Linked DNA regions of Homo sapiens. The protein of the gene in region 6 interacts with the protein of the main gene of each other region in a pairwise test. Each region holds a gene or a part of one and is shown on either strand. Other genes may lie near its edges. The genes, in order: UNC5B, CRY1, RORC, CLOCK, RALA and PPP2R1B.

The links.
Region 1: the proteins of PPP2R1B (region 6) and UNC5B interact in a two-hybrid assay, tested with the Homo sapiens proteins (one study listed by BioGRID).
Region 2: the proteins of PPP2R1B (region 6) and CRY1 interact in a two-hybrid assay, tested with the Homo sapiens proteins (one study listed by BioGRID).
Region 3: the proteins of PPP2R1B (region 6) and RORC interact in a two-hybrid assay, tested with the Homo sapiens proteins (one study listed by BioGRID and IntAct).
Region 4: the proteins of PPP2R1B (region 6) and CLOCK interact in a two-hybrid assay, tested with the Homo sapiens proteins (one study listed by BioGRID).
Region 5: the proteins of PPP2R1B (region 6) and RALA interact in binary tests that used the Homo sapiens proteins (3 or more experiments, as listed by UniProt).

The regions. Positions count from the first base shown.
Region 1 is NC_000010.11:71,218,425-71,223,303, reverse strand, and holds part of UNC5B (netrin receptor UNC5B isoform 1 precursor), read right to left. Parts: intron 3,697-4,879; exon of another isoform or gene 1-3,696. UniProt on the Homo sapiens protein: Receptor for netrin required for axon guidance. Mediates axon repulsion of neuronal growth cones in the developing nervous system upon ligand binding.
Region 2 is NC_000012.12:106,991,817-106,996,695, forward strand, and holds part of CRY1 (cryptochrome-1), read right to left. Parts: intron 1,221-4,879; coding exon 1,149-1,220; intron 1,075-1,148; coding exon 971-1,074; exon of another isoform or gene 186-970; coding exon of another isoform or gene 122-185; 3' UTR 1-121.
Region 3 is NC_000001.11:151,807,149-151,812,027, forward strand, and holds part of RORC (nuclear receptor ROR-gamma), read right to left. Parts: intron 4,287-4,879; coding exon 4,177-4,286; intron 486-4,176; coding exon 324-485; 3' UTR 1-323. UniProt on the Homo sapiens protein: Nuclear receptor that binds DNA as a monomer to ROR response elements (RORE) containing a single core motif half-site 5'-AGGTCA-3' preceded by a short A-T-rich sequence.
Region 4 is NC_000004.12:55,452,136-55,457,014, forward strand, and holds part of CLOCK (circadian locomoter output cycles protein kaput), read right to left. Parts: intron 4,166-4,879; coding exon 4,083-4,165; intron 3,869-4,082; coding exon 3,762-3,868; intron 1,690-3,761; coding exon 1,542-1,689; intron 1,263-1,541; exon of another isoform or gene 995-1,262; coding exon 919-994; exon of another isoform or gene 172-918; coding exon of another isoform or gene 104-171; intron 1-103. UniProt on the Homo sapiens protein: Transcriptional activator which forms a core component of the circadian clock.
Region 5 is NC_000007.14:39,629,602-39,634,480, reverse strand, and holds part of RALA (ras-related protein Ral-A precursor), read right to left. Parts: intron 2,586-4,879; exon of another isoform or gene 1-2,585. UniProt on the Homo sapiens protein: Multifunctional GTPase involved in a variety of cellular processes including gene expression, cell migration, cell proliferation, oncogenic transformation and membrane trafficking.
Region 6 is NC_000011.10:111,748,691-111,753,263, reverse strand, and holds part of PPP2R1B (serine/threonine-protein phosphatase 2A 65 kDa regulatory subunit A beta isoform), read left to right. Parts: intron 1-931; coding exon 932-1,105; intron 1,106-4,573. UniProt on the Homo sapiens protein: The PR65 subunit of protein phosphatase 2A serves as a scaffolding molecule to coordinate the assembly of the catalytic subunit and a variable regulatory B subunit.

The DNA.
Region 1 (4,879 bases), on a different chromosome or scaffold from region 6:
AGGCCTGACCATGAGTTCTCATTCATCCATTCTACAGAGATTTATTCAGTACCTTCTGGGTGCCAGGAATCCACACGAGTGAGCCAAATCAGGCCCAGCCTCCCTAGTCACCTAGTGCCATGGCTGCTCTGCCATCACCTAGTCGTTTCAATCCATGCTGGCTGCCCCTGCTGAACCTGTCTCCCCAACCCTGGAGCCCTGGCTTGGTGACAAGGAAAAGGAAAGAACGCAGGCTGCCCCATCCGACAGACTCCCATCCCACCACAGGTCACTGCTCACTCCGAATGTCACTCTGCTCTGCTGTGTCACAGAATGACCAAAGGTGGGATAGGGATGGGGGAGGGGGTCAGGGACAACTTTCCTGGAATTCCTGACTCAATTTCTTGTAAGCTCTGCATCCTGCATGGGTGTCCAGGTCCCCAGCCAGGCAGGCGGACGCCTCTGATCGCATTACAGAGCTGCTTTCCTTTGGGCTTTGTCTCCTGAAGGCAGTAATGCCTCCAGATGCCGCTTGGGGCCTCTGGGGGTTGCAGGCTCCTGGGTGATCTCAGCAGAAGACTCCCTGGGGATGCCTCCTGGGTCAGGGCAGGCCCAGGTGAACACCAGGGACCAGAAAAAGCAGCCTCTCTCTTCCTGCCCCTCTCCTTGGCTCTCTGGCCAACCTGGAAACTGCCACTTTGGGACTCTCTGTCCCACTGTTCTGCCCAGAGATGCACAGGGAGAGAATCAGGGCCCAGGCCCAGCCCTAGCCCTATCCAGAGGTCAGCCAAATCGGGGGGTGGAGGAGGGGCAGGAAGAGAAGGGAAGGCAATGGAAATCCACAGAGCACCCACTCTGCCAAGACTGTATATGTGTGTGTTCACGTCACATCAGCACCTGGTGAAGGTGGTGGAATCATGCCTATCTCATGAATTGGGAAGCTGAGGCACAGAGAGTGAGCCACCTCTGGAAGATTCAAATCCTAAAGGCTGGGGCTCTTTCCACTAAGAGACCTCTGGCCCTAGAAGTCTTGAGTTGCTAGATGATCAGACACGAGTCAGAAGCTGAATGTAGAATTTGTCTCCTGGGTAGATGTGCCAGACATTCACACCCATACCTTCACGTACACATCCCCTACCAGGGCCACACTCTCCATTTACCCAAAGTCTCTCATCTTTCAAGGGCCAGTCAAGTGCAAACCTTCCCTCTTCCAGGAAGCCTTTTCTGACTGCCCAGACCACAAGAGCTTCTTCCTCTCAACATCCAGACATTTCCCTTCGTTCCACGCAATACATGGTGCCCATATGATGATGATGATGATGATGATGATGATGACAGTAGTGAATGTCACTGAGCACTTCAGAATATGCAACACACTTTTAAGCATGATCTCATTTATCCCCAAATCTAATGAGATTGGTGCTGTTACTACTCCCATTTTACAAATGAAGGAACTAAGCTCAGAACTAAGCTCAGAGAGGGTAAGCAACTTGCTCTAAGACACACAGCCAGATGGTGGCACTGCCAGGATTTGAACCCAAGTAATGTGACTGCACAGCCTGCCCTCTAAACATCGCGCAAGACCCCTCCCAAGACACACACATCTTGGCTCATGCTTGAATGATTCATATCTGTTGCATCATCCTAATCCCCCTTGCACCCCAGCATCACAGGCCAGGCACTTGGCCCATGCTTCAAGAAGCAGCACAAAGCCCATCAGTTCTTCAAGAGTCAGGCCCATGGTTTTTAAGCTTCTGACTGCGGAGCTCAGCACTTGCTCAGGCTGAATGAATGGGCATGTGCATCAGGTTTTAGGGTGGGCTGGTGTTCTGATACCCTACATGGAGACAGGAGTCCTCATTCCCCAACCCCCAAGATTGGCCTCCCCCTGCCTCTGAGAAATGAAGCTATGCATGACACGGGGGCCAGGCCTGCAAAGTCTGTCTCTAACACCCTCAGCAGGGCGCACTTGAGCTTCGGAGTGGGTGACAAGGGGGGGGACCACAGGCCCCTTCTCGCACATGCCCAGGCTGCCTCTGCCAGTGGGGCCCTTCTCTACCTCCTGGGCCCTGCTTGGCATCTGGGGTTCTCAGTTTCTGAAGCAGGAAATGCTTATGGAGCAGGAAAAAGGGACCGAGTTCCCAGAGGGTGATTTATGGCTTCGGTGAGAGAGACACCCAGGGCTGCATAATGCGTGCAAGGGCATTCCAGTCAATATACTGACTTTCCAGAGGGGCCTCTGTAAACACAAGTGGTTCTGGACCTCGGCTACCTCTGTTTCTTTCTGACTGCTGGAGCCTCTTCAGATAGAACCAGACAAAAACCCCACATCCTGTATGGATCATCCTTCCACCTCTGCCCCACTCCGGACTTACAGATGGGAAGGGAAACCAAACAATCAGAACCCAGAGAGGGAAAGGCACTTGCCTAGGGTCTCACAGCAAATGAAAATCAAGAGCCAGAGTCTACTAACTCCTCAGCCAGGAGCAGCTGAGACTCCTGGTCCTGACCTCCCAGCTTTCACTCCCGTGGAGGAAGATGATGATGCATTGCTAGGCTCTCTCCGGGGCAGGCTGCATGCCAACAGGCCCTGAGTGATCACTGTGTGCCGGGCACTGTGCTAAGGGCTTTACCATACATCAGCTCATGAGACTCTCAAGGCAATTCTGAGGATGATGTTATTATTACCCCCATTTTACAGATGAGAAAATGGAGGTACAGTCCAGTTAGGTGAGCTGCCCAACGTCACCAAGTTAGTCAGTGACAATGCTGGGAGGCCGTGTTAACCTCCTTAGAATTCCAATTGGCAATGCCATGCACTCTTCTGCACCCGCAGCTAAGGCCCCGGGGAGAGGTGTGTGTGGAAAGAGAGCAGCTGGGGGTTCCCAGAGGTGGTGATGACAAAGGATCTCCCCACCCCTACCCCTGCCAAATGGCTCACAGAAGTGCTAGGCAGATTCCATCCTTCCCCTTCTTACCCACTTTGTGTTCTCTGGTGGGGGCAGGGCAGAAAGTAGGGAGATACCTCCCCATGTCTCCACCCCCAATATGATCCCTACCAGTGCTTAGAAAGTATTTTCTGGGCTCGTTCCACCTTTGGGAGCCATACAGAGAGATCCAAGAAGAAGGCCTTTTGCCTCCAGGGCCTGCCATGGTCCTAGCCCACAGAGTCAGAAGCAGCTGAGAGGGTTCGTGACCCAAGCGCACACATTCAGTAGAACCTGGGATGCTGGGAGGTGGAATGGGGCCAGAGGGTTTGTTCTCCAAGGATTGGTGTCCACCTCAAGATAGTGAACACAGCAGATGCTAACAGGGGCAAATTTCCCAAGAGTAAGGAGAGGTCGGCTGGCACCCCTGCCCACATACCCAGCTAGCTAGCCCCCATCCCATCCTCTCTTCAGGACATGCTCTCAGAAGAACTGGAAAAGGACAGTCAAGGTCTGGCACTCATCACCTGCCCCAGGAAGCCCCATGCCTTAAAACCTTGGCTCTGCTATGCTCTTCCCTGCATATCATCTGTCACCCTCACATGGCATCTGCAATGCTCTGAATGCCACTTAACATTTCTAGAGTGGACATCAGCAACACTTACAGACAGCACCTCCTCGAGGGCTGTGGCCAGGGCTGCTTAGGAGTTCTGACCTTGTGATGGTTAATACTGAGTGTCAACTTGATTGGATGGAAGGATGCAAAGTATTGATCCTGGGTGTGTCTGTGAGGGTGTTGCCAAAGGAGATTAACATTTGAGTCAGTGGGCTGGGAAAGGCAGGCCCACCCTTAATCTGGGTGGGCACAATCTAATCAGCTGCCAGCAGGGCTAGAATATAAGCAGACAGAAAAACGTGAAAAGAGAGACTGGCCTAGCCTCCCAGCCTACATCTTTCTCCCGTGCTGGATGCTTTCTGCCCTCGAACATCAGACTAGAAGTTCTTCGGTTTTGGAACTCGGACTGGCTCTCCTTGCTCCTCAGCCAGCAGAAGGCCTATTGTGGGACCTTGTGATCGTGTGAGTTAATACTTACTAAACTCTCCTTTATATATATATTAGTTCTTTCCCTCTAGAGAACCCTGACTAATACAAACCTGGGTCCCAGTCCTGTCTCTTCAGCCTTCTAAGTGAGAGCTTCCACCTTCTCGGTGAGTTCTTACAAGGACAAAGTGAGACTGCACATATAAAAGGGTTTTGTAAACTGTAAAGCAACATGCACACCAGGGTGGGGCGAGGGACTGTGATTTTCCTATAGGCCTCCCTGCTCCAGAACAGTCCATCTTATCCTAGAGTTGAAGTGATGGAAGTCCTTCCTGTGGACAGCCCTGGGAAAGCAGGTAAGCGCTTCTGTGACCAAGAAAGTTGTAACGACAGTGGAGTCCAGCATGTGTGTGGGTGTGTCTGTCCTCTTTAAATTGCTACCGCTGAGAGTCCCAGGCCCCAGCCACGTCAGCCTGAGATGGGGTTCTCCACTGGGGATCCCACCCACTCAAGCTCTGCTGGCCCCTTCTCCAGCAAACTCTAGAGGAGAACTCACTCCCTTTGGGGGAGACAGGCTGAAGCATAAGCTGACCCAGGTCAGAGAGCAGATCTCCAAACCACAGCCGCTCCCATGCTCTGGGGAAGCTGGGAGTTGACTGCAGAAGACTCCAGGTCTGGGACTCTGATCTTCCTGGGGGCAGTAGCCCAAGCTGCTGGGCTGGCTTAGGGTCCATCTCTGCCAACCTTCCTCCCCCTGGAGCACCAGGACCCACCTGCAGGCAGGCCTATCCCATCTGCACTCAGCAGGGGAAGCTGTCCTCTGCCCTTCCAACAGCAGAACCTGGCACTCAGGCCAAACCCTGCTCACAGTGCAGGTGTGGGGCAAAATGAGGTCTCTTAAGTGCTGATGGGCAAATGGCCTGGGTCCCAT
Region 2 (4,879 bases), on a different chromosome or scaffold from region 6:
CAAATTACCAATTGTCCTCTGTGAAATTCATTAAAAAGTTAAAAACCACAGAAATGTCATTAGAAACAACATATTTCAATATGTAACTGCTTTCCATCAATGAAGAATATTTTTAAATAACTTAATTGAAAAGTATTGAACTCCCCACCAATTTCAGCTGCAACAGTATTCCTCCTGAATGTTTTCTGTGATTTAAGGGGGAAAAAAAAACTAGGTAAAGCTTGATTGCAAATAATTCAATGACAAAAATGTGATGAGTGTTTATTGACCTTATCTTCAAGATACTTATAGTCTAATTAGGTTGACATAAAAAAACTAAGCAATAAAAAATGTAAACAGTGTTAGAAACTGAAGAAACAGAAAATTTTTAAAAACTGGCAAATCCAACGTATAAATATTTTTCATATTAATTTAAATCACAAAATGACATCCCAAATCCAATTAAATTGAATGCAGGCAAGGCTTTCTGATACTTCTAATAAGGGCCAGCATTTTAAAAAATTTTGAACTATTCCCAAATTGGAAATAATTTAGATTTTAGAAGCATCATAACAGATAAAAGAAATTTATCAACATTTAAGAGGCAAAGATTTAGGGGAAAGTTCATAAAAAGATTATATTAATGTCACTAAAATAAACAGGCCACTTTAATTGTTTTAGACTCATAGTTACATAGTAAGGAAATAAAAAAGTTGTCTTTTTCTAAGAAAAAACTTGACCACAAAATCATAAACATCTCTAATTTAAAGAGCATTGGTTCAGATGAATATAAAACTGGTGCAACAATTTCTCCAGTACAGATGCATGTCTCTTGACCAAAAATTAACTGAGTTTGTAAAAATTGCTTAAAAATTAATGCCTCAAGATTTTCTGGTTTGAAAATAGAGATTTGCTCCATTTTTGAAATTATCTTAATTTATGTTAATTATATACTCTTCTAAAGCAAGAAATACAGCTCTAAAATATTTACCTAATTAGTGCTCTGTCTCTGGACTTTAGGACCAATACTCTGTGTGTCCTCTTCCTGACTAGGACGTTTCCCACCACTGAGACCAGTGCCCATGGAGCTTCTTCCTGCACATTTAAAAAATGTATGTTTAAGATAGGAAAAGGAAAAAGAACAGTATGCTCCAATGCTTCATTCTTACCTTGCTTCAACAGGTGAGTTTGCTGACTGTCGCCATGAGCATAGTGTAAAATACCACTCCCTTGAGAGCAACCTGTTAGTATTTAAAACACAGTAAAATTACTTAAAATCAAATCCAAGATGTATGTATTATTAAGTCTACAAATCCAACTTTTAGCGCTTGTACTTAAGGTCATTTATATGCTTTTAAGACTAAATCTCAATCTTCCTATGAACCAAAAATCACATGCTCAAACCAGGAAAACTTAAATTTAGGCTCACAGAAGTGTTGACAGCTCAAAGGAAAAATCATTGATGATCATTTTCTAAAAAACATTTCCTTACTAGATGACAATTTGAAACTTGACCATGAAGGTAAAACATAGGGGCAAGAGTGAGATAGACATTCCTCCCTCACTCTTGTCCCTTTTCCCACGCTTTTCCTTCAGAGCTCCTCCAAACATATTTCCTTGAGGATAAGGGAATAAGGGCCTGCCCGATGAGTTAAACAATTCAAATCATACGACAAGCAGAAGACACAGACTATGTGGCAGTTACCTAGCCTAAGCAATCCTATCAACCCTTCTAAAAACAAACACTATTATAGGAGAATAGGTTGGCTAGAACAGAGAAGTATGTTTTAGGGAAACATTTCTGTCAGTGTGTCCAGTTTATGGAAAAATATGAGCATTCTGGACCTATCCACGAGCAGGTGGATAGGTCAACACCTTATGGCCTGAACAAGACTGTGCACTTACTTTCGTTTTAATTAACTTCAATCCCAGGCAATCAGTGGCAGTTGCTCACCCTAAGTGAGTATGAAGTACTATCCCATAGTTGTTTTAATTTGCATTTCCCTAATGACTAATAATGCCGATGAACTGATATTTTACAATAAAAAAACCTAAAAGTTAAATAAAAACTAAAACATATTGCTACAGTAGTAAACATATTACAGTCTGTTTTATTATAAGAACAAAAGTAAGACTTCTATGTATAGTTTATTCCTTTCCTGAGCACATGTGCACACACACACAAATACAAAGATGAGCAGAGAAAAATGCAATTTGTGTTGCAGAGATTAAGAATGTTCCACAGTCATTAAAAAAACAAACAAAAACAAACAAACAAAAAACTAAGACAAGTAAAAGAATTTTGCCCTTTGACATGCCTTGTAAGGTACTATAAAAGCCTACAGACAGGATAAGTGTAAGGCATAAAAGGATATGCTTTAGAAGCATTTAAGTCCTTTCAAATGGGGCAGAAACCTGAGAGGAGAAATGTTTAATATTAATAGCATAGCCCAAGCCGTGTCTTTTCACAATTTCCCATTTCCAGGTCTAAAATGTTTTTTTCCTTCATCTGACTACCCAAATGCTACTCAATCCTGCCACCTTTCAAGAAAGTTTCTCTAGTCCCTTCAGCTCTCAATAATCTCTCCCTTTTCTCATATTGCACATGGAGGCAGCATCTTATAATTTATCACTTTTTCATTTGTTTTTGTTTTCCCTCCACACCCCCATTTATACTTAAGTTCTACTTAGCTTTTCATGTCTCATGTCTTTTGAAAGCCTCCAAGAAGCTGGCTACAAACTATGTTACAGGCAAATATTTACATGATTAAAATAATTTCAAGATTTATTAATTCTTCTATTATATAATAAACTACCCTATATACATTTGTGAAGCAAAATTGTCCCAATTTAACCTGCTACTATGATTAGCTTTTGAAGATAATTCCAAATAAACGACACAGGTTTGAGTGGTCTAAGAAGCAGTCTGTGCCATCATTGTGTATTAGCCCAACCCTTGGTTCCTAGCCCATTGCTACCTGCCTGTTATCTTAGTGCTTCACAGAGCTTCTGTCCCTCACTCATGTGTGGGCTGACAAGGCAGGCTGTGAACTGAACAAGAGATCTGAAAGAACTTTTGAAATGATTATCTTGTGGAAGTTTATTCAAATTGTAGGAGATACTGAGAAGGAACATTTCTCAAGTATACTGCCATCACTGGCAACTGTCGACTGCTGGGTGGATCACATTCCAGGAATAAAATATTTTCTCTTGTAAACACTTATGGCATTCCATTTGCAGAGGAGGCCCAATGATGCAGGAAGAAGTACAAGCTTTGGAGCTAGTCAGACTTGGATCTGAATCTTAGCTCAACTACTTACTAACTGTGGGATCTTGGTTAAGTTACCTAATCTTTCTAGGATTATTTCCCCAAATATAAAATGAGGATCCCACTACCTCCTCCCCAGGTTACTGTGAGAAAGTATGCAAAAATCCCTTACTATCTACTGGGCAAAGGTAGGCAGTCAAAATGTGAGTGCTTTTGTCCCCTTCTCCCAAAACTAATTCTTGGAGGATAAAATACATGCTGTTTTCATGAGGATGCAGGACATTTCTGAATTCAAAAAGGTTCAGTTTTTAAAAGGTTTTATTCTTAATATCAACTTAGAACATCTGACTTAAAAAAGCATTCCTCAAATGCTACCCTGTTTTTATCCTGTTTTTTTTATTTTGAAAAATATAGATTCACAAACAGTTGTAAAGTTAGTACAAAGAGGTCCTGTTTCCCTATCTTCTTAGTGACATCTTATGAAACTACAGTACAACAATATAACCAGGTATTGACATTGATACAAAGTGTTTGTATGATTTTATGCTCTTTTATCACATGTATAGATTTCTTTTTTCTTTTTTTTCCCTTCAATTTTTATTTTAAGTTCTGGGGTACATGTGCAGGATGTGCAGGTTTGTTACATAGGCAAACATGTGCCATGGGGGTTTGCTGCACAGATCAACCCATCACCTAGGTATTAAGACCAGCATGCATTAGCTATTCTTCCTAATGCTCTCCCTGCCCCTGCCCCCCCAACAGACCCCAGCATGTGTGTTTTGTTGTTTTTTGTTTTTGAGATGGAGTTTTGCTCTTGTTATCCAGGCTGGAGTGCAATGGCGCGATCTCAGCTCACCACAACCTCTGCCTCCTGGGTTCAAGTGATTCTCCTGCCTCAGCCTCCCAAGTAGCTGGGATTACAGGCATGCGCTACCACGCCCGGCCAATTTTGTCTTTTTAGTAGAGACGGGGGTTTCTCCATGTTGGTCAGGGGCTGGTCTCAAACTCCCAACCTCAGGTGATCCACCCACCTCGGCCTCCCAAAGTGCTGGGATTACAAGTGTGAGCTACTGCACCTGGCCCCAGTATGTGTTGTTCTCCGCATGTATCCATGTGTTCTCATCATTCTACTTCCACTTACAAGCAAGAACATGAGGTGTTTGGTTTTCTGTTCCTGCCTTAGTTTGCTGAGGATAATGGCTACAAGCTCCATCATGTCCCTGCAAAGAACATGATCTCGTTCCTTTTTATGGCTGCATAGTATTTCATGGTACATATGTACCACATTTTCTTTATCTAGTCTATCATCGACTGGCATTTAGGTTGATTCCACGTCTTTGCTAATGTGAATAGTGCTGCAATGAACATACGTGTGCATGTATCTTTATAACAGAATGATTTATATTCCTTTGGGTATATACCCAGTAATGGGATTGCTCAGTCAAATGGTATTCCTGCTTCTAGATCTTTGAGGAATCACCACACTCTCTTCCACAATGGTTGAACTAATTTACAATCCCATCAACAATGTAAAAGCCTTCCTTTTTCTCTGCATCCTCACCAGCATCTGTTGTTTCTTGACTTTTTAATAATCACCATTCTCACTGATGCTGTCCTATTTTTTAATCAAAT
Region 3 (4,879 bases), on a different chromosome or scaffold from region 6:
TTGAGGATGTCTTGGTCCCCCAGAAGTCCTTAAATCCCAGCCACCCCATGCCTTCCAGAAGCTGGGTGTGAAGGAATATGGGAAATGAGACAGGTCAAAGCTGAGGCTGGAGATGGTGTTCTGCCAGCCCCACCCTCTGGCGATTGTCCCACTGCCAGGCCGGCCTGCTGACAGAAAGCCAGCCGCAGCATCTGCTCACTTCCAAAGAGCTGGTGGGGACCACCCTCCAGGGTTCATGGGAAAGGAAAAGGGTGAGGGTGGAACGGGGTCCAGGGAGGTGGGCCAGCAGGCCATAGGGAGAGGCAAGGAGTCCCTCTTCCAGGTCACTTGGACAGCCCCACAGGTGACTCGGTTTCAGTGCTGAAGAGCTCCTTGTAGAGTGGAGGGAAAGCGGCTTGGACCACGATGGGGTGGAGGTGCTGGAAGATCTGCAGCCTTTCCACATGCTGGCTACACAGGCTCCGAAGCTTCCCCTTGGGTGGCAGCTGGATATGGGTTAATGGGGAAGGGAGGGTCAATACTTCAGCTCTCCTCAGAGCAAAGAAGTCCGCTCATTCTTCCTGGGCTAGGACAAACCCTCCTTGCCTTCCCCTTATGTACTTGGCACTTTGGCACCAGCCAAATCCCACTGGTAGAAGTACGTGTGTGTTCAGGACACTGGAGGGAAGTGAGAGTGGGTGGGGCACAGGTGAATGTTTTCTGGGTGAAGCCCTCAATTTATGTTCCCAATACTTCTAGAATGAACCTTGTCAAAGACTCTAATGTGCACTTCCTGCTTTTATAAGAGTGATTGTCTGTGACTCTTGTTGTATGCTGTCACATGCCTCTGCCTTTGTGCATGTTGTTCCCCTCTTCCCATTACTAATCCTTACCCTCTAGTGTCACCTCTCCTAAGACTATTTCCCTAACTGCCTCCCATCTGGATTAAGGGCCCTTCTTTTGGGCTTTCCTCTGTGTAGCACTTACTACATTGCAGGAAAATGGTCCAATTTGTCTGCCTTCCCACCCTAGATTTCAGCTCCTTGGCTGAGGTCTCTCTTTCCCTGTCTCCTCTGTACCTATCATAATGCTTAGCACATGGCACATGCTTAATAACTCTTTGAACTAAACAGACTTTCTAAGCAGGCACCTAACACTGCAAGTAGCAAACCAATGCTGCCAGCACTCAGCCAAAGGGGAGATGAAAAAGGCACAGAAACCAGTGAGCAGACGGAGGCAGGGAGACCTCACTGGAGCAAGGCTGAAAGAACAATTTATCTCTTGCAGTCTCCTCTACAACCAAGAGGCTTAAAAATGTCTCTTGCCTGCCATTGCCTCCCTCCCCCAGCTTAGTTTCCTTGGAAAGAGGCAGTCAGAGAAAAGCAGGCAGCAGGGTGTGATCCCTTCATATCTCCTAGATTCTCTCTCTTCCTCACCACTGCTTTATTCTGAGCTTTTTTGGGCTATGGCAATAGCTTCCTTCATTCATTCAACAAATATTTGTTGAGAACACATCTGGATCTGAGCTAGGCACTGTGATGGCCTCTAGTGATATATCAGATATATCAGTCAATAAAGTATAATCTGTACCTTGATTAAATTTACATTCTGGTGAGGGGCCCAGAAAATAAATATGTAGTGTATCAGATAATAAGTTCTTTAAAGAAAACTAAAGCTTTTTGTATGGGGTTACTGGTCAGGAAAAACCTCTCCCGAATGAAGAGATGGGGTAAGCCATTTGGAAAACTGGGGGAAGAACCCTCCAGGTGACTACAATAGCAGGTACAAAAGCCCTGCGACTGGGTTTGATGTGTTCGAGGAATAGCAAGGAAGCAAGTGTGGCTGCAATGGGTGTTTGAAGGGGCAGTGGAAGATCAAGTGAGAAAAGAAGGCAGGGATCATGTTATGAGCCACTTGACCATGACGCAGACTCTAGATTTGATTCTCGGCATCACAGGCAGCTACAGGAGGGCTGAGAACAGGAGTCAAGGCCAGGTGTGGTGGTTCACGCCTGTAATCCCAACACTTTGGGAGGCCAAGGTGGGCAGATCACCTGAGGTCAGGAGTTCGAGACCAGCCTGGCCAACATGGTGAAACCCTGTCTCTACTAAAAATACAAAAATTAGCCGGGCGTGTAATCCCTGTAATCCAAGCTACTCAGGAGGCTGAGGCAGGACAATCGCTTGAACCTGGGAGGTGGAGGTTGCAGTGAGCCGAGATCACACCACTGCACTCCAGCCTGGGCGACAGAGCAAGTCTGCCTCAAAACAAACAAACAGAACAAACAAACAACAACAACAAAAACAAGAAAAAAACCACAGGAGTAGGGCATGATGAGATTGCATTTTTAAAAGGGCTACCGTGGGTGCGGAGTAGGTGTGGTTGCTACAGGGCAGATGAGGGTGGAACAGGGGCTCAGTTAGGAGGCCTCTCTTAAAGTCCAAGTGAAAGCTGAGAGCTGGTAGGGGCCAGGGTGGTGGTAATAGTAGGGAAGGTGATGTATTTTGAAAGCAGATCCAACCGGATGTGCTTTCCAATTGCTCTCCCAGATTCCTGTCTCTCCTCCTTCAAATCCATCCTGTAGCAGATTAAAGTTCAAGTTCTTGAGAGCACAGACCGTGTAAGTCATTGCTGTATCCTTAACACCCAGCCCTGTGCCTGGCACATAGCAAAGGCCTGCTTGAATAATTACATAAATGGTTCCTTTATACTGGTTCCAAAGTAAATTGCCTAAATGACAGCTCTGATTGTGTCATTTTTCTAGCCTTTGGAGCTCCCTGTGGCCTAGAAATAAAGCTTTAACGCTTATATGGCATTGAAAGTCCTCTCTGATTTGCCCCTGACCTAATTTTCAGGCTGATCATCTGGTGCTCTTCTGCCCCACCAGTCTATCCCAGCTCCTGATTTTACACTTTAGTGAGGATGTACCATGAGTGATTCTCCACATACACACTATTTTGCCTCCTTATTTTTCTCCTGTTGTTCTTGGTCTTCATTGTACCCTAGTCCCACACCCAAATCCCATAAAACAATTATCCCCAGCCTCTCATACTCATCTCATCCATTTTTTTGGTTAAACCTCAGGAAAAGGATTTTTTTTCATTTTTTTTGTTTTGCTCCTATTGTTCCCTAAGCCTGGAATGCCTGCCCCACCCCCATGAATGCCTGTTAAAATCTTACATCATTCATGGCCTAGTATAAATGTCATCTTCCCTGGGAAGTATTTATGACCCACTCCTTTTACCCCCAAATTATTTTTAATCCCTGTTTTATACTCTCATAACATTTTCCTGGTGTCACTTATTATAGTTATACATAGGGGACACAGGGATAGAAAGAGCGCAAAGAGCACTGGGATTCAATCTTGCATTTAAGTCACTGAAGTCTCCTGATAGCTACAAGGAGATTTTTTTTTTTTTTTTGAGACAGAGTTTGCTCTTGTTGCCCAGGCTGGAGTGCAATGGCACAATCTTGGCTCACTGCAACATCTGCCTCCCGGTTTCAAGCGATTATCCTGCCTCAGCCTCCCAAGTAGCTGGGTCTACAGGCGCCTGCCACCATGCCTGGCTAATTTTTTTTATTTTTAGTAGAGATGGGGTTTCACCATGTTAGTCAGGCTGGTCTCGAACTCCTGACCTCAGGTGATCCACCCGCCTTGGCCTCCCAAAGTGTTGGGATTACAGGCGTGAGCCACTGTGCCCGGCTGCTACACAGGGAGATTTGAACACCTGTCCTATTGACTGGGTTGCCATGAGGATGAGAAAGCATGTCAGCAAAAGCACTCTGTTAATTGCATTATTATTATATCACATACCACATTCTACTCTATGTTAGAGTTAGTGATACACAGATCTCTTCTTCATACCAGATTAAAATCTCTTGGTGGGGGCAGCGACCAAATCTCTGTGTCTTTCCACAGTGCCTTGTACAAGCAGGTGCTGGGTAAGTGCTGGCTATATTAAACTGAATTGTTCCCTGGAGGTCCCTCCCAATCCCAGGCCCTCTAACTTTCCAGTCTTTATGCACGTGGAAGTAGCTGTTCATTCCCTTAGTTCCCACTGCTGATGCAAGCTCTCTAACAGAGAGTGGTACTCCCGCACTCCCTCCTCTGTACCCACAGACCCCGGCCCTCGCAAACTCTGATGTTACAGAGCTAGCGATGGGCCTGGCCTCTTCTACCCCAGGGACTGCTCCTACCTTTGCCAGGATGCTTTGGCGATGAGTCTTGCAGAGATGATGATGAAAGGCCAGCTCCAGATTGTACTGCAGCTGTTCTACTTTCCTTTTCTCTTGGAGCCCTGGCCGATCTGGAGGAGGGGGTGGGACCGTAATGAGAACAAGAAAGAACATGGACATTAACTCCCAACAAAAGGGTGTATCTTTGTGGACATCTGTGCTGGATAGAGGTCTTCTAAGCTGAGCGCGTGCATGTGTGTGCCTTGGTTTGATAATGGTAAGCTCTGGACGTTGGGCTTGGCTAGCTGTCTACAAGGAAAACTGGGAAGAGATGAAAGGTATGAGAATTTCTGATCTCCTGACTCCAAGCTACCTTCTCCCTGGTAACCTGATATTCCACATAGCTCATTCAATGCTAGGCACTAGGATTCTGTCATAGGGGTAACAAGAGTTGGAAAAGAGCTCCCCCATGTACGAAAAGGGCTCCTGATAGGAGGTGGCCTTCCTGAAGGTGCCCAGGCCTGCACCAGGGGGCTTGCAGCAATCTGTGACTAACTTTTGCCCTGATTCTATAAAATATCCAGAAGTCATCTTTAAAGTTTTTATCTTCTAGTTTGAAGGGCATATTTAGGTGTCCACTCACTGGCAGAGCCAGAAGACTGATAGTCTCGATCTGCAAACTCAGGTTAGCAGCTTGACCCACTTCCCTAGGTTCTCTGAATAT
Region 4 (4,879 bases), on a different chromosome or scaffold from region 6:
GCTGGATCTACTGATTTCCTTATATAATGCATAGAATAGACAAAAGTGGTGAGGTATCAATCCTGTGATTAGGTTACAAAAGACTGTGACTTCCATCTTGCAGGTAGTTTCTCTCCCTGGCTCATCTTGCATGCTTGCTCTGATGGAAAAGGTCACCTGGAAAGGAACTGAGGATAGCCTTCAGCCAGCAAGAAACCAAGGCCCTCAGTCCAACTGCCCATGAGGAACTGAAGTGTGCCAGCAACCACTAAGTGAGGTGGAAACAGATGCCACCTCAGTTGAACTTTGAGATGACTGTGGCTCCCACCAACACCTTGATTACAGCCTCATGAAAGAATCTGAAGTAGAGGGTCCAGCTAAACTGTGCCTGGACTCTTGACTCACCAAACTAGGAGATAACAAGTGTGTTGTTTTATATCACTAAATTTTGGAGTAAGTTGTTACACAGCTATAGATAACTAATATACTATACTTCTGACCTGATATAACAAAAAAGAAACCAGAGTTCCAATTCTGACTATAATTTCCCAGCCAGTGTCTTTAGGGAAGATTTTTTTTTCCCCTCTTGAAACCCCAATTTCAGTATTTTCAAAGTGGGGATATTACCTACCCGATAAAAATATCTGATGTGTAAATTATATTTCATAATTCATATAAATAACCTAGCCAGAGACTAGTACATCACTGGGAATAAATGGTAGTTTTGAGATCAGACACATCTCTCATCCAATTTTCTTTTTAGAGGCAGGTGAGACTCTAAAATATTAAATTAAAAATAAGTAGTAAAGTATAATCACATCCCCGTTATAAGTGAGGAAATAAAGTATTTTTGAAAAATAGTTTTCCTATTAATTATTGAGTTTCATCTTTTATTGGGGAGAAATTAAAAATAATTTTTTTTAATTATAAGAAACATACTTTGTCAGCAGCTGTCTCAGGAAGAGACTCTTCAATGCCAAGTTCTCGTCGTCTTTCAGCCCTAACTTCTGCATAACTACAAATGGAAAAAATAATCAAATTTTAGTGTCTGGTCATTCGTTTAAAATACTGCACAGCTGTAACTATTCAGTGTTGTTACGTGTCTCATCTGTTCATCTAGACTATTTGCTATGTGCTACACAAACCTAAAATATACCTATAATGTCTTAATTTAACTTGCATTTTTCTAGGTATCTTAAAGTTTCATACACTGCTGTAAACGATCCATAACCACACAATACTTAAATTAAGAAAAATAAATAAAGGAAGTGTATGCTTATCTACCTACAGTTTTCCTTTTACATGACTGACATTACTACATAAATGACAGTAACAACTTCTGCTGTAAAGCACAAAATTTATATCAAGACTTATATATCTATATCATTCCTATATTTATATATAATGCCTATAAGTAAATTTAATAATATATTGAAAGGATCTATCAGCAATTGAGAAAAGAGCACTTTGTAGCTCTTTAACAACTTACGCATAAAAGTTACAATGCCAAAATCATCATAGGATGTTACAGTAATTCAGAAATTCTCTAAAAGAATTATTACCTTACTACAGTGTGAGTACAAACAATAAACTCTGGCCTTGAATTCCACTGATGGTAAGTGATATAATAATGAGTCTGAAGCCAAATCCACTGTTGCCCCTTAGTCAGGAACCTATAATAACATGATTTGCCTTTCCCATATTGCATTACTAAAAGGAAAATAGAGAAATATTTTTTCTTTAATTCATATTATATAAAGATTGTTTTTTAACCAAAAGCTATCATTTACATTTAAGTTTACACATACTATTATTTTTCTGGCCTTTTGATAACATATATGTCAATATGAAAATGTTATTCTTTAGAGCTAGTTTAAGGTCCCAAGCAATTATCAGATCTACAGTGCCCAATTCACAGCTAGTCACTGCTGATCTTACAATCTTTCCATACACAATTAATACTTAAGAATTCACACTGCTGACTTCCTCCTGCCTAGATATACAGAGGGTAATAACAATAAATAATCACCCCTGAGTTTTTTCTCCTAACTACTCTGGCAGGCACAGAATCTTTGAAGCATTTAATTTTAAACCTTAACTAACCAAAATCAAAGTAACTGAGTCTGAAGTAACTGAGTGCAGTAACTGCCAAAACATGTGCTGTGGATTTTAAGTTCTGAAGCGTTTTAACAGATATTAAACAAAAAAATGGGTTTTGGGCCAGGTGTGGTGGCTCACGCCTGTAATCTCAGTACTTTAGGAAGCAGAGGTGGGAGGATCACTTGAGGTCAGGAGTTTGAGACCACCCTGGCTCACATAGTGAAACCCCATCTCTACTGAAAATACAAAAATTAGCCAGGCATGGTGGTACGTGCCTGTAATCCCAGCTACTCACGAGGCTGAGGCAAGAGAATCACTTGAACCCGGGAGGTGGAGGCTGCAGTGAGCTGAGACACGCCACTGCACTCCAGCCTGGGTGACAAAGCAGGACTCCATCCCAAAAAAAAAAAAAAAAAAAAAAAAAGGGTTTGTAGTTAAATTAATTTGGGAAACTTTTTGTTAAATAGGTGTCTTCAGTTTTCTCAAAACCTAGAGTATGCTAATGCATGTGCAGATTCTCTGAGGGATTATGAAGTGTTTCCCCATCTTCCTTGACTATAAAGTCTTTTTTTATGGACCAACATTCGGTGGAACAAACCTTAGAAAATGCTAGTCAAGAATCTCTCAATCTGTCCCCCCACCCCCCAACCCCGCCGCCACCGCCTCTCACTCTCTAAGGAGGAAATCAAGGTCTACAAACAAACTTGCTGTCCAAAGTTACCCAGCTAGTTAATAGAGGTATCAGCTCTTTAGACAACATCATGGTGCTTAATGCCCACATCTTTTGTGCTGAAATGACTTTACTCTGAAAATTTTCCATAGAGTTAATGCTATTATACAACCTGCTTCATTTTCATACAGTGAGGTTTATAACAGCAGCATAAAACGTCATGAAAAGGTCTAAAATATCTAGTTAAGCTTTAGTGAACACTCAAGATGGTAAGCATCTGGGAGGAGGATCAGAGAAGCAAATAAAACATATCATTAAGGCAAACCTCATCATTAAAACAAACTTCTAAAATAAATACATGTGATAAAAAGAGTAGGCCTAGGCTCCAATCCTGTCTCTGCCACCAATGAGCTATGAAATTATGGGTGAATTACTTAGCCTTACTGTGTTCTCAGCTTACTCATGAAGATAATAATAGCATCTACCTTTTAGAACTGTGATGGAGAATAATGAAGATAATAGATGTAAAGTGTTTAGAACAGTGCCTGGCACAAAGGATGATAATGCTCCTGCTCTAACAACAATAATAAGCAGATAACACCAAGCACTTACTATGAGCTTTCTAAGACAGATTTTCCAGACATGTACCTAGCTCCTGAAAAGATTCACATGCCTCAAAATCAAAATTTAGGAAACAATACTCCAAAAGTTTGAAGTATTACAATTTTCAAAGGAATCTACTTCTCTTACTCCAGATATAGAGCTCACGTGCTTCAGAACAAGGTGTATTAGATGCAATATTATAAAATTCTACTTATTATAAAAATAGGAACAAGTTTAAACTTGATCTATGATTCCTACTACATTGGTTATATACATAAAGCAAAATCTTTTAGCATATTTCAAAAATATGAAAATGATTATAAATCTGTGTCTTACTACCTATCATTTCAGGACAGGACTTCTGCTTATAAAACAGTTATTATCACCAGAAATGTTAAAATCTACTTACAGTGCTCATGACATTTTGCCAAATTTTCTAGGTCATCCACATGATAGTAATCATAGCCTGATGTTCCCAGAACTTCAAATGGCAAATACCCTATTATGGGTGGTGCCCTAAATTACACAGAAAACAATCATTATTATAAGTTTTTCCATAATAAGAAATATTTCAACTAGAAATAAACTTTGGGGGGGGGGCTTTATTTTTCAAAAAATGGGAACAGGTTTCAAAGTCCTAATTTAAAAAAAAGTTTGCCCTTGATCCATTAATTTCAAGAATTATATAACATGACTATTACCTTTTCATGGAATTTAAAAATGGAATTACCTGTGATCTAGAAACAGAAACTTCCATTCTAAACTATGTCTAGATGTAAACTCTTCATTGGGTTCTTCAACAGTGCACATTTCCTACAAATAAATAATTAAAATTTATAAATACTTTGTGTCCTTAAGAATATTAAATATTGCTACATATAAAAATAAGTCATGGCCAGGTGCAGTGGCTCACACCTGTAATCCCAGCACTTTGGGAGGCTGAGGTGGGCAAATCACTTAGGTCAGGAGTTTGAGACCAGCCTGGCCAACATGGTGAAACCCGATTTCTACTAAAAATACAAAAAATAGCAGGGCACGGTGGCGGGCACCTGTAATCCCAGCTATTCGGCAGGCTGAGGCAGCAGGATCACTTGAACCCAGGAGGTGGAGGTTAAATAAATACATAAATAAATAGTCATTACTAGATAAACTTTTCCTAAACAAGTTAGTTGTTTCTATGTATGTATATATTTACCTATTTCTTTGTTTGACACAGGGTCTCACTCTGTCACTCAGCCTGAAGTACAGTGGTGTGATCTCAGTTCACTGCAGCCTCAACATCCTAGGCTCAAGCGATCCTCCTGCCTCAGCTTCCCAAGTAGCTGGGACTATAGGGATGCACCACCACGCCCGGCTAATTTTTGTATTTTTATTTGTAGAGGTGGGGGGTCTATGTTGTCTAGGCTGGTCTTCAACTCCTGGGCTCAAGCAACCTGCCCACCACAGCCTCCCAAAGTGCTGGGATTCTAGGCATAAGCCAAAATGCAGGCCCTTCTAAACAAGTTAATATATTTTAATTTTCCAGTA
Region 5 (4,879 bases), on a different chromosome or scaffold from region 6:
GAGGAAATAAGACAACAACAAAAAAGAACAGAAAAGATCACCCTCCTGCTGAAGTGTGCCATCAGGGTAGCTGCATGTACCACAGGACAAGATCTGAGGATCTTCAAGGCAGGAAACCCCCAAGTCTGCCCCACCCAAGTCTGAATTTCATACCAGTGAGGCAGCAAGACCCAGAGAGAAAAAGGTGACATGGGTCACAGGAAAAGTGAAAACAGACAGCTGGAATGGACCAAGGAATGGACCAAGGTGAGTGAGGGCTCCTCAACCTAGGGACAAGAAGAGATCATTAAATACTCTACCTACCAGCACTCCTGGGACAGCAAAGATGGACAACAGGCCATGGACTGAGAGTTGTAAGGAGTTCTAGGAAGGAACTCATTAGTATATGGGGCAATAAATTAATAAATACCCTACCACCCAGCCCTCCTGGGAGAGAAAACAATAGAATGACAGAGAAAGGCAACAGGATGTGGTCTGAGAGTTCACACAGGGACCTGGTAATCTTGAAATTATAAGAATCTACAGAAAATACGCTACTTGAACTTTCTGGATAAATTAGATGGCAGTGAAATAAAAACACTCTCCAGAACTTGGGAGACCAAGCACTGGTGTGCAATGACCATCACTGCCATGTGGATGGAACATGTGCAGGATGCTGGGCCAACACCTGATTTCACACCAACAAATCATTCCTGCCAGATGAGTGGATTCGCATAAATAAAACCTGGAGAAAGAACTGCCTCAAAGCCAGATGTCCCAGGCCTTACACACTTGTCAAGAACCACCCACAGATATGTACTCTAGGATTACCCCCCAGTGGATAAACTCATCTAATTACAAACCTGCTGATAGGGTGTGGCTGTGTCCCCACCAAAATCTCATCTTGAATTATAATCGCCATAACCCCACTTGTTGAGGGAGGGACTAGGTGGGAGGTGACTGGATCATGGAAGCAGTTTCCTCCATGCTGTTCTCGTGACAGTGAGTTCTCACGAGATCTGATGGTTTTATAAGGCAGTTTTTCCTGCTCTTGCATGCACATGCTCGCTCCTGCTCACTCTCATGAATTCTCATTCTCTCTCTCCCCTTCTCTCTCTTTTCTGCTGACATGTAAGACACGTCTGCTTCATCTTCTGCCATGATTTTAAGTTTCCTGAGGCCTCCCCAGCCATGTGGAACTGTGAGTTAATTAAACCTCTTTTCTTTATAAATTACCCATTCTCGGGTATGTCTTTATAGCAGTGCGAGAACAGACTAACATTTACCTTGCTATATGATCTAGAAATCCAAGAAGTCAAGGCAGCAACATATCAATACAAAACAAGCCTTGCTCATCTGCAAAGCACACACACCACTTAAGACTGTGAAGCCTAGAAGGGAATCCCTAGATTTTCATAGACCTATGACAGCTTTAGCCTAGAAGGGAAAAGGAGGTCACCCTGTGGCATCTATAACTAGCTGGGTAAAAAACAAAATGAAATCCAGAAAACTGTGTAGAGAAGCAAGAAAACTCAGGGCTGCTTGTATAAACTGAGAAACCATGGAGCAGTTACCATGCTAAACACCGTATTTTCCTACCATGCACTAGGAAAGTTGACCTTTCCTGCTTCTTACCACATCCATCTCCTTAAGTATCTTTTGTTAAAATTTAATTTTTTAAAAATTGAGATGGGGTCTCACTCTGTCACCCAGCCTGGAGTGCAGTGGCATGATCTCAGCTCATTGAAGCCTCCCCTCCTGGGCTCAAGTGATCCTCCCACCTCAGCTCCCTAGTAGCTGGGACCACAAGCACATGCCACCATACTTAGCTAATTTTTGTACTTTTTGTAGAGACAGGGTTTCACCATCTTACTCGACCTGGTCTCAAACTCATGAGCTCAAGCTACCTGCTAGCCTCAGCCTCCCAAAGTACTGGGATTACAGGCCTTAGCCACCACGCCCAGCCAATCTCCATAAGCATCTCTTAAAGACACAGCGAAGGACTGTGTGCAACCCTTGTAAGGTATATACATAGCCAAACTATTATCTACATTGAAATGTACACATTTGTATATCCATGGTGAAGATAATACAATGAAGCAATCAGTACCTCTATTAAAGACATTGTTACACTGCTATTTAATCTTGTTCTGGAGATATTAGTCAGTGCAATTAGATAAATAGTTAAAGGCATAAACACTGGAAAAGAAGGAAAAAAAACTATTTACAGATGACACAATAGTATATCTGGAAAGTCTGAGAGAAGCAATGATGGAAGTAATTGATATGATTTGGATGTGTGTCTCTTCCAAGTTTCATGTTGAAATGTAATTCCCAAGGTTGGAGGCGGGCCTAGTCGGGGGATGTTTCCGTCATAGGGCAGATTCCTCACGAATGGCTTGGTGCTGTCCTCACAGTAATGAGCAAGTTCTTACTCTATTAGTTCACATGAGAGCTGGTTGTTTAAAAGAGCCCAGAACCTCCTCCTCTCTCTCACTCTTCTTTTGCCATGTGTCACACCTGCTCACCCTTCGCCTTCTTCCATGAGTAAAAACTTCCTGAGGCCTCAACTCGCCAAGCAGATGTTGGTGTCATGCCAGTACAGCCTGCAGAACCGTAAGCCAAACAAATCTCTTTCCTTTATGAATTACCCAGTCACAGGTATACTTTCATAGCAATGCAAAAGAGGCTAACATAGTCAACTTAGTAACAATTTGGCAAGGTGGCAGGAAAATATGCAGAAATCAACAATATTCGTATAAATGGACAATAACCAGTTAAAATACATAAATGATAAGAAAACTATAATAGCAACAAAAAAGATAAAATAGCTTAGGAATAAGCAAGAAATGTTGAAAACTTGTATGAAGAAAACTATAAACCATTCCTCAAAGACACAAAAGTAGAATGCAAAAAATAAAAAGACATTGTTTGTTTTAGGTTAAGATGTCTCAATACCATCAAGATGTCAATTCTCTAGCAGGGCATGGTGGCACACACCTGTACTATCATCTACTTGGGTGGCTGAGGCAGGAGGATCACTTGAGCCCAGGAGTTCAAGGCTGCAGTGAGCTATGATGGCACCACTGCACTCCAGCCTGGGCAACAGAGGGAGACCCTTTCTCCAAAAAAAAGATGTCAGTTCTTCATAAGTTAGTATAAGTTCAATGTGATCCCAATAAAAACAGCAATGAGGCCGGGCACCATGGCTCACGCCTGTAATCCCAGTGCTTTGGAAGGCCGAGGCAGGTGGATCACTTGAGGCCAGGAGTTTGAGACCAGCCTGGCCAATATGGCGAAACCCTGTCTCTACTAAAAATAAAAAAATAAGCTGGGCATGGTGGCACACGCCTGTGGTTCCAGCTACATGGGAGGCTGAGGCAGGAGAATCGCTTGAACCTGGGAGGCAGAGGGTACAGTGAGCTGAGATCGCACCACTGCACTCCAGCCTGGGTGACACAGTGAAACTCTGTCTCAAAAAAAAAAAAAACAAAAACAAAAAACCAGCAATGAATTGTTTCATAGACTTAGACAAATTGATGCTAAAATTCATACAAGAAGGCAAGAAAAACAATGAAGAGGAAGCGCTATAATGGGTGACTAGCCCTACCAAACATTAAAACATACTACAAAGCCTCTATGATTAAAATGATGTGGTACTGGTGCATGAATGGTGAGATAATCCAATAGAAAAAAAATATACCCAACTGCATATAGAAGGAACAAGAATTTTTTTTTCTTTTTTAAATAAATGTCATTGGGGCAACTGGATAGCCACTTGGAAAAGGATAAAATTAGATGCATTCCTTATATCATACATAGAAATAAACTCTGAATGGAACTAAATGTGAGAAATGAAACTATATGAGTACCAGAAGAAAGCATGTGTGAATTTCTCTATAACCTGAAGGTAAGAAGTTTCCTGAATATGACTAAAACTTCAGATGCAGTAAATTTAAAATTTATATATTTGACTATATAAAAACAATCTTTTGCATGGCAAAAAATCACCACAAGCAATGCCAAAAGACGACTAGCAAAAATATCTGCAACATATGTCAAAATTAAACGGTTAATATTCTTAAATAGAGAGAACTTTTCAAAGCTGAGAGGAAAAAAGACTGAAAGTCGTATAGAAAATGGGCAAATTGGTCGGGCACGATAGCTCATGCCTGTAATTCCAGCACTGTGGGAAGCTGAAGTGGGCAGACTGCTTGAGCCCAGGAGTTTAAGACCAGTCTGGGCAACATGTTAAAACCCCATCTTGACAAAAAAAAAAAAAAAAAAAAAATTAGCAAGGCATGGTGGCATGCACCTATAATTCCAGCTACTCAGGAGGCTGAGGTGGGAAGATCACTTGAGTCTTGGAGGCTGAGGCTGCAGTGAGCTGTGATCGCACCATTGCACCGCTGCACTCCAGCCTGGAGGGTCCAGCAAGACTCTGTCTCAAAAAAAAGAAAAAAAGTAAAAGAAAGCTCGGCATGGTGGCTCACGCCTGTAATCCTAGCACTTGGGGAGGCTGAGGTGGACGGATCACGAGGTCAGGAGTTTGAGACCAGCCTGACCAACATGGTGAAACCCCATCTCTACTAAAAATACAAAATTAGGGTCAGGCACGGTGGCTCATGCCTGTAATCCCAACACTTTTGGAGGCCGAGGCAGGTGGATCACGAGGTCAGGAGATCGAGACCATCCTGGCTAACACGGTGAAACCCCATCTCTACTAAAAGTACAAAAAATTAGCCAGGCGTGGTGGCACGCGCCTGTAGTCCCAGCTACTCGGGAGGCTGAGGCAGGAAAATCGCTTGAACCTAGGAGGCAGAGGTTGCAGTGAGCTGAGATGGCGCCACTGTACTCCAGCCTGGCAGAGTGAGACCCCATCTCAAAATAAATAAATAAA
Region 6 (4,573 bases):
CAAAAGTACCCATTAGAGTAAACCTAGAAATATCTGTTTATCATCTTTACCTGATTTTTGCTTTATACTCCCTGGTTTCTTTAAAGCTAATGTGTCTTTGTTTAAAAAGTTTCATTTATTTAAGTTTAAATATAGTATCAAAAATTATAATGATACCTAATATTTACTGAGTAATTACTACATGGCAAGCATGAGCCTTAGTGCTTTGCATGTATTTTTACATGCAATTCTCACAACAATCCTGTGAGGTAGGTCTTATTATTATCCCTTTTTGTTTGTTTGTTTGTTTGTTTTGTTTTTTGAGACGGAGTCTTGCTCTGTCGCCCAGGCTGGAGTGCAGTGGCGCAATCTCTGCTCACTGCAAGCTCCGCCTCCTGAGTTGATGCCATTCTCTTGCCTCAGCCTCCTGAGTAGCTGGGACTACAGGCGCCTGCCACAGCACCCAGCTAATTTTTTGTATTTTTAGTAGAGACGGGGTTTCACTGTGGTCTCGATCTCCTGACCTCGTGATCTGCCCGTCTCGGCCTCCCAAAGTGCTGGGATTACAGGTGTGAGCCACCGCACCCGGCCAATTATCCCATTTTACAGATGAGAAAGCTGAGGCATAGAGGGTTAAAGTAACTTGAGCAAGGTCTTTCAACAATGACAGATCTGAAATTTGAGTGCATCTGATTTAGTTCCAGAGATTATGCTCTTTACCATCTTACGGACTTTTCTTGTAGTCTTTAGTATTACGGACTTTTAATTGAAATTTCTGATTAAGATCATTTATGTTCCTTGAGTTATTTATGTATTCACTATTATTTCTTCAAGATTATCCATTTTTTTTTCACCTGAGTCTTACCTCACCTTTTATCTTACCCTGACAGGAGACTGTTGGGCAGAGTACTTGATTTTTAAATGTGGTCTTTTGGGGCTTGTGTACTTGCAGTGTCCTGACGTTCGTTTGAATATCATCTCCAATTTGGATTGTGTAAATGAAGTGATTGGAATCCGTCAGCTCTCTCAGTCTCTCCTTCCTGCCATAGTGGAGCTGGCAGAAGATGCCAAATGGAGGGTCCGCCTGGCCATCATTGAGTATATGCCGCTGCTGGCAGGCCAGCTGGTGAGTATGTGTTGCTCCATGAACTGCAGGGTAGTGTCAGATAGTGACAATTTACCATGGCAAGTAGGAGGCCTAGTAGCCTGTATGCTTATGTTTGTTTAGATGCATGAAAGTATGGCCTTGTTCTTGTTACCTATAGGATGGTTTTTATGTTTGTTAGTGCATACGTTTCTTTTCTTTTAAGATGGAGTTTCACTGTTGTTGCCCAGGCTGGAGTGCAATGATGCAATCTTGGCTCACTGCAACCTCCACCTCCTGGGTTTAAGCGATTCTCCTGTCTCAGCCTCCCAAGTAGCTGGGATTACAGGAATATGCCACCACACCCAGCTAATTTTGTATTTTTAATAGAGATGGGGTTTTACCATGTTGGTCAGGCTGGTCTTGAATTCCTGACCTCAGGTGATTCACCCGCCTCAGCCTCCCAAAGTGCTGGGATTCCAGGCGTGAGCCACTGCATCTGGCCTATTAGTGCATACATTTCTAACAAAAAGGTATAGGTTGAGTATCCCTCATCTAAATACGCTTGGGACCAGCATGTTTGGGACCAGAAGTGGATTTTGGAATATTTGCATTATAAATATTTACTGGTTGAGCAGCCCAAATTCAAAAATGCAAAGTCCAGAATGCTCCAATGAGCATTTCCTTTGAGCATCATATCAGTGCTCAAAAAGTTTTGGATTTTGGAGCATTTCACATTTTGGATTTTTGGATTTGGGATGCTTAATCTGTATTACAGAAACATATTTCACCTCATCACCACCGAAAAACAAAGCCATAGAATAATCAGTTTCTTGGTATATATAATGTAAATTTTATAATATTTAATGCCTTTGTGACTTAAGAAATGTTTAACTGAGAAGAAAAGGGATTATGGTTTTAGGGTAAGTCTGCTGTGATTTTTGCTCAAGGAAACTTCCCTGTTTGCCTTGTATTCTAAGCAAAATGTCCCTAGGTACCACTTGCCCTACATTCTGATTAAAGGGAGTTGAGGAATCACCATATAGAAAAGAAGTATTGAAAGGCCGGGCACAGTGGCTGACACCTGTAAACCCAGCACTTTGGGAGCCAGAGGCAGGCGAATCACTTGAGGCTAGGAGTTCCAGACCAGCCTGGCCAACATGGTGAAACCCCATCTCTACTAAAAATACAAAAATTAGCTGGGCACGGAGGTGCACACCTGTAATACCAGCTACTCGGGAGGCTGAGGCAGGAGAATCGCTTGAACCCAGGAGGCGAAGGCTGCAGTGAGCCAAGATTGCACTACTGCACTGCAGCCTGGGCAACAGAGTAAAACTTTGTGTCAAAAAAAAAAAAACAAAACAAAAACAAAAACTGAAGCTTGTAATGTTAGTATTTTGGTCAAAGTCCACATTATCACATTATCTGTTACTGTTTGAGTTTCGTGATCAGTGTTACCCTAACTAATACCATGTTAGTTAAAATTTCAAAGCTGGGTTTTATAGCCACATCCTTTCCTTTTTTTGAGTAGGTGGCCTAGACAGTTCTAAGTTTGATGTACCTTCATCTCTGTTGGTAGCACTTATTACAGAGTATTGTAATTGTCTGTTACAGTCTAGTTGGAGAGATGGGTGATCTCTTTTAGGGCAGGGACTGTATTTTATTTCCAGTCCCTACCATAGTGCCCGTCATTAATTAGGCACTTAACATTTTTTATTTTGGGGGCAGGGTCTTGCTGTTGCCCAGGCTGGTCTTGAACTCATGGCCTCAAATGATCCTCCTGCCTCGGCCTCCTGAGTAGCTGATAATAGGCATGAGCCACTGTGTATAGCCAACATTTGTTGATTGTTGAGTATTTTTTGAGAAAGATGTGTCAGTTTACTATTGACATCGCTACAGTTTGTTTCCCCTTCCTCACTCCCACTTCCATTCCTTTCAGGTCACAACATATGGAATTTATTTTTTCTTGTCTTGAACCCCTGAATTTGTATTTTTAATTTTAGTACATTTAGTTTATGAACATGCAATTTGTGGATGTCTGTGGCATTATATGTTTTATAAAATTGAAAGTGTCCGATTCTTTGAAAAGTATACCAGAGGTATTAGTGCATGGCAAATGGGATCAGGTGAAGTTATTTTGTCATCCTTTTTGTCTGTCACTCCCAAGTGCTATGGGTCATCTTCTCTTCACTGGTGATTGTCATGGATCTACTTTTCAGAGTGGAGAGGAGCAGTGATTAACTGATTTGCTGAAGACCAAAACTATCTGGAAGGGAGGGTGCATTTTAGTACCATTTCTTTTAACCTCTGCTCCTTCTAGACCTGGAAAGTTTCCCAGGGTTGCTAGCTCTATAGAGAGCAGTGTGAAAGCAAGGCAGATGGTGTCTTTGGCTGACTTACACCTGTCTGGCAGGGGTGACATGCCTCAGTCATGAACATTTTGCTTTACAATTTTAACTTCTTGTTAGTATATATATTCTCCTTAATTTCTCTTCATATCTAAATATTTTTATATCAGATAGTCATTTTATAAAATTCTCTCAAGACTTTATGTATGACCTGGCTTGTGGACGATGTTAAGTAAGTGTAAAGTTAAACTACAAAAACCGGAAAATAGGCCAGGCGTAGTGGCTCACGCTTGTAATCCCAGCACTTTGGGAGGCCTAGGTGGGTGGATCACCTGAGGTCAGGAGTTTGAGCCCAGCCTGACCAACATGGTGAAACCCCATCTCTACTATACAAAAAATTTAGCCGGGTGTGGTGGTGGGTGCCTGTTACTTGGGAGGCTTCTTGGGAGGCTGAGGCAGGAGAATTGCTTGAACCCAGGAGGCGGAGGTTGTAGTGAGCTGACATTGCACCACTGTACTCCAGCCTGGGCGACAGAGAGAGATTCCGTCTCGACAACAACAACAACAACAACAACAAACTGGAAAATAAAAGTTAATTAAAACTGAAGGAAAATTCTCAACCTGAAATGAAAAAGAAATCTTGGCTGACGTAATCTAAGTGTATGCCAAAATTTGTTCATTATGATCTTTTAGTACAAAGCAATTTTGGGCCAGGTGCGGTGGCTCATGCCTGTAATCCCAGCACTTTGGGAGGCTGAGGCGGACGGATCATCTGAGTCAGGAGTTAAGAGACCAGCCTGGCCAACATGGTGAAACCCTGTCTCTACTAAAAATACAAAATTAGCTGGGCATGTGCTGCATATCTGTAATCCCAGCTACTTGAGAGGCTGAGGCAGGAGAATCACTTGAACCCGGGAGGTGGAGGTTGCAGTGAGCTGAGATTGTGCCACTGTACTCCAGCCTGGGCAATAGAGTGAGACTCCATCTCAAAAAAAAAAAGCTATTTTGTCTTATTCAATCACTATTTTCAAAGCACTGACACATTATATTACCTCTCTTTTTTTAAAATATAGAATCACCAGTCAGGAACTTCTTAGAGTTCAAAGAAGCAAGACTGTAAATGTGTAGACCCCAGAAGGGAGGCACTAGGAAAGTGTGTCAC